Regions from separate parts of the Homo sapiens genome. Here region 1 is linked to region 2. A link means that fine-mapping ties the variant in region 2 to the expression of a gene that starts in the linked region. Tissue or cell type: visceral fat. Region 2 holds a variant in brackets; the other region holds the start of a gene. All regions are shown on one strand. Distances are between the middles of the regions.

The links. PIP is the estimated chance that this variant, and not a neighbour inherited with it, causes the effect.
Region 1: WDR36 starts here. The variant in region 2 is fine-mapped to the expression of WDR36 in visceral fat (GTEx, PIP above 0.99).

Annotation. Positions count from the first base shown.
Region 1 is chr5:111,090,832-111,093,476 of GRCh38, forward strand. WDR36 (WD repeat domain 36) reads left to right here and starts at 1,517. Exons shown (of 23, transcript NM_139281.3): 1 at 1,517-1,787. The coding sequence starts at 1,626. RefSeq lists an enhancer at 1,367-1,806.
Region 2 is chr5:111,134,538-111,137,391 of GRCh38, forward strand. No RefSeq gene overlaps it. Among named protein-coding and RNA genes, the nearest start is that of WDR36, 44 kb to the left of the region's middle. The variant G/C (reference allele first, on the strand shown) is at 1,380.

The DNA.
Region 1 (2,645 bases), 44 kb before region 2:
TCACCCGTCTTCTGCGTCGCTCACGCTGGGAGCTGTAGACCGGAGCTGTTCCTATTCGGCCATCTTGGCTCCTCCCCTCTCCCCTCTTTTTTAATTTAAAGAACATTTACAAATAATTAGCAACTTGTTCACTTTTAAGTCATACCAAAAACATGGCTGAAAATGTGCACTGCTATTGAGAAATCCGGGGTACAAATGAAAATACAAGTAAGTACAACATGTCAAGGACTAAATAACAAGCTCTCATTCTGTTAGCATCTGCCCCTTAATGATCTTAACATCCAAAGTGTTTGAGGCTTTGTGCCAAGAACTATAAAATAAATCAAGATTTTTTTTGTTCAAGAATGTATGAGTCAGGTATTCAAATTAGCTAACAAGTGACTTTTGTTTCATAATAATTACATTTTAGAACTGGAAGGAACCCGAGAGAGTACACTGATCTGTGTAGAGACAGACCCTCTTTATCTCTTTCAAGTACATTTACATTAGTAAATATACCCTTTTTATCCCTCTCAAGTACTAGTATAGTTACGTTAGTCACTCGACCCAAACCTTAATAGGCTGCCAAAACGTTTTCATAAACGAAATGAAATGGAAATAAAACAGTAAGAGAAGAGGTTATTCCATATGTTGAACTTTGGTCCTGGGCTCTAAGCTCACCACTGTTTTAGTTAATGTTCACATGCTCAGAGATTGTTCCCCAAACCTACATCTTGGTAAGGCAGCTGGCTCCTGAGGAGTGAGGCGTCTTGACACCCACTTCACTGGAATCAGTCTCCTTCAGCATCCTAAGGCACTCAGCTCTAATGAACTGCCCGGACTCCCGTTTGCATTATGATAAGCTCCTCTTTAGAACCTCTACTGTCTGCTTTTGACAGCCGACCTCAAGGAATACTGACTTAATCCAGGAATCCCAATAACATTTAATATTTATCTTCCTTTTCTGGGAGGAATCTACACTTATCCAAGTTGCCCAAGTGAGCAGTTCCCTCCCCACAAGTAATTAGTTCTACTCCCCAGAGGGTCTGTGAGTGAATCCCTCTGTCAGTTTTGAAATGTCCCATTATAGTTTTCATCTGTAAATATGTCAATATGTATCCAAAAGATGAGGATCTTTAAAAACGTAATCATAATGCTACTATCATATGTAAAAATGAAACATAATTCCTTAATATCATCAGATATCCAGTGTTTAAATTTTTCCAGTCTCATGTTTTTGTACATTTTTAAATAATCACATGTTTAAATCGTTTCCATCTCCAAGGCGTCGACCTCCCCTCCATTCTCCTGGGCGTCGCGCTTCCCTCTTTGTTTCCCGCCCTTGCGGTTCTGTCGGAACCTAACGAGCTTCCTTCCACCGCAAAAGAGCTGGAGAACAATGCTAGGCAACGTGCTGGAGACCTTGGCCCTCGGAACCCAAGTCACGCCTCCCATGTGAGCTCTGGAGGGAGAACTTTATGTGTTGCACTGAGGGCAGTCTCCGGAAACGCGATTCGCAGCGGGCGCCGGAAGCGGTGTTGTGTCTGCAGCTCTGGCAGAGGACTGTTCCACTAGACACGCTGAAGGGACTGGGTACGTGTTTTCCTTCAGGACCAGAGCTGAGAGGAGCTGGGATCGCGGCGGCAATGGAACGGGCCTCAGAAAGGCGCACGGCCAGCGCGCTTTTTGCGGGGTTCCGGGCCTTGGGACTTTTCAGCAACGACATTCCACACGTGGTGCGGTTCAGCGCGCTCAAGCGCCGGTTCTATGTAACAACCTGCGTGGGCAAGAGTTTCCACACCTATGACGTGAGTGACTTCTTTTGTTAGCTTCCCAGGAAAACCACCCTCCTTGGCCTCTAACTCTGTCCTGGAGCAGTCCGGTTCTCCCTTCCCATTTACCACGGGCTTCCCTTCTTTAACCCCTCCCTGTCCTATTAATATTTCGCCATCCGGTCACGTCCACGTGCTGATTTGGCACTTGCAGTCCTCCTGGGGCGTGTTTCAGAGGCAGCCTGGCCAAGGGGAAACTGCTAGAGAACATCTCAGTTGTATGGCAGTAATATTTGTTCAGTGAATATTTATTGACCTTCCCTTGAAGGTGGAAACATAATTAAGACAAACCTCTACCTCTTGCATTCTTAATGAGAGAGAAAAACATGCACGCTATTACGTTATTGGTGACACGAGCTGAGTTAGAAATTCACTCTAGGTAGAATACATTGGGAGAACCGGAGATGGTGAGATTAATTACCGTTAGGGAAAATATCTAATAGCAATCAGTTATTTTCAACTAACGCAAAGTGTCTGGCACTGTCACTCTAAGCCTTGCAGCCGTTTCTTTGCAACATAGGTGTCATTATACCGTAGCACCTTTATATAATCTATTAAAGTAAATTTCAGATAAATCACTTGTTAGTGATGATTTTTTCTCCTATAACAGTTCATCGATCATTGTAATAGTGTCTCTTGTTTACTTGTTTCTTTTGTCTTCTCCGAAAGAATGTAACCTCTGTGAGAACAGAAACCTTGATGAGGAGGATGATAATAGTCAGTGTTAATTAAGTACTTTCTTTTCTGGAAAACAGGTAGAGTTGTCTCTCTTGGAGGATTGTGAATATCAAATGGCTTATTAGCAAAAAGAGCTGGGAGGTAGGAACTAGTTGA
Region 2 (2,854 bases):
AACAAATACTTAGCTCTGACCCTGTCTCAGATGCTGTTCTATGCTCTTGAGATACTTTAGAAAACAAAACATATAAAAATCCCGGTCCTATGAAGCTTGTATTTTAGCTCATTATTCTTTTATATTCTTTTGCTTAGCCTTTTGACTTGCTCTCTTTTAGAATCAAGATAAAGAAGAAGATGTTTCTAGGCCTTCACACTCTGCAAAGAGTGACTGCCAGGAGTTTCTCCCTTTATTTCAAAATGTGGCATACGTGGGTGTGTGTGTGTGTGTGCACGCACACGTGTGTGCACGTGTTTGTGTGTGTGTACAGGAATTCCCAAATAGCCTCCATATGAAAAAAAAAATGCCTGCATGCTGCTTCACTACCATTCTTGTTTTAACAAAGGGCTTGGTAACTTAGAAAAGCAGTGCATATGAAGAAGTAAAACAATTAAGGAGGAAAAAAAACTGGTTTTTTTTTTCCCTTGGAAGACTCCACCTCTCCATTCTCTGGCTGATAATAGATGGCCAGGCATAGGGAAGCAGAGACTAGGAATTAGCCTTGTAGTTTGTCAGACGTGGCTCCTGGAGCTGAGGGCCACCCCCCAGGGGCCTGGGTGCAGTTTTAGCTCTTGGCACACTGCGTGGAAAGGTGGAGGCAGGGGGCAGAGATGAGATGTTCATCTCTGTTGCTGTGGTGACAAGGAGGTGAAGTGAAGGTACTTCAAAAATGTAAGCTACAACACGTGAGGAAAAAGGTGCCTGTGGAACTGTGTGCTTCTCTCAACCTGTCCCATTCCCTCCTAAATAATCGTGTATGGGGTATGGCAAGATGGAGATCCCAACACACATGAGACAGGGTGCCTGACCCCCAGTCCAGGAGATGAGCCTTGCAGGAGGAAAGGCAGCACACATCTGCCTTCTCGGAGCCAGGGCAGGCTGCACAAAGAGGACAACTGCCATTGATCTTGAACAAAGGGGGTGGGAGGGGCATGGTATTACAGAGAGAGACAGGACAGCATTCAGAGATGAGGCCATGAGAAAGGCAATAGAAAGTCAGGGATGGCCAAAGTCATGCCAGCTGCTACCTCTGGGAATGTGTAGAGGTCAGTGGCCCTGGAACTGGGTACAAAGGAGACTTTATCTGCAATGTTTTGTGTAATTTTAAATTAAACAAAATAAGATAAAACATCAACTACTATTGATTCTAGGTGTTGATGTCTATATATTTTCATACTCTATATTTAGTTTAGTTTTTTTTAATTGTATTTCAATCTTTTTTTTTGTCTAGCTTTTCAAATAGAATGTATTTACACATCTCTAACCATTCATCCATCCATCCATTCATGCTACTTCGTAGATATATCTTGTGTGGCTGACCAGATCTTATTTCCTCT[G/C]GAAGGTGGCCTTTGGAAGCTGCAATTGTGTTTGCCACCCAAGTCACTGGACCTTTCCCAAAATTCCAGGCCACCACTTGACCTAACCACATTCATTTCGATGCAAGTCCCTGGCATTGGGTCTTTATGAGGCGCAGATGGTCTCCAGGTCAGCACTGAGCCCTGTCTCTTTCTCTCTGTGCCCAGCTGGCATGAATTGGAAGGCAGAGGAACCGAGGGAGTTCTGAGTCACCTAGCTTGACTGAGTCAGAGATTTCTCCAGGGAGTGGTGGAAAGGGTGGCTCTTGGCAGAAGAGATCCTCATCTCAATGGTGTGGTACTTGCCTGAGATTTCCCAGAAAGCACGAAGAACATCAGGGTGGAGAGTTTCACTCTCAGCGACAAATAGAAATAATCCACTTGATTCCACATGAACTAAGTGTTGAAGAAAAACATAATCTCACATTAGCTTATCTCTTTACCCTTTACCAGAACTCAAAGATGGAAATTACCATTCTCATCCTGCTGGGAAATGACAATCATGCAGCAAATACACCATACTTTGTGTCACTTGAAACCAGTTTTATCTATTAAAAAAATACTAATCCTTAAAATATTATTCCTTTATGAAACACAAGGCCTTTTTTTTTCATAGCCTTTGTTGCAGCAAAACTCCTCAATAAATAGCACTGCCCAGAGACAGTTAGGGTAAACTTAGATCATGCAGGAAAGTGTCTGTCACTGTTTGCCTGCATCTCTAATGCCCTTGATGGGTTGGTTTCCTCCTTTTGTGCCAGTGTGGAAGTCTCATTCCCATTGTCTGCCATCAGCTAAATGTCCAAATTTGCTATAGAGCCCATCTCAATTTTGTGCACACAAGTGTTCCATAAATACCTAATTTAGTGGTTTTCTAAGAGTTGTCTGTCCAGTGTTCCCTAGGGGTCCTTCAAATATTTCCAGATGGTCAGCAAAATATGATTAAAAACTATTTTCATAAAACTGTGTTTACTCACAGTATTTCAAGTACAGGAAATATCAACAGATATAATTAATGTCACACTGAGATCCTCAATAATTTTTTAGAAAGTGAAGGGCTCCTTAGACAAAAAATGTTGAGAATCATTGCACCAATTGATTGGTTAGAGAAATACATAGCCTTACCAAGAGGTGCTAGCATATACTAATACCCAATGCTTATCTCTGAAAATGCCTTAAATCTGATGTTCCAAGACATGGAATATGAATCAGTACTGCTCTTCATCCTCTGAGAGAGCCAGTGAGGTCAGGGCTGGTCTCAGGTTTTAAAACTCCATTCAACCTCAGATTTAGTTGGATCAGTCACCTATTGAGTTCAATTAGGACTAGATGGCAAAGTTTAGAATAAAACAATTAGGTCATAAACAAAAATTTTTTAATTAACATAATGAAATGTATTACTCAGAACCAGTTTTAGTTATTTTCAGCAGAAACTACTATTTAAGTACATTAAGGGTTTT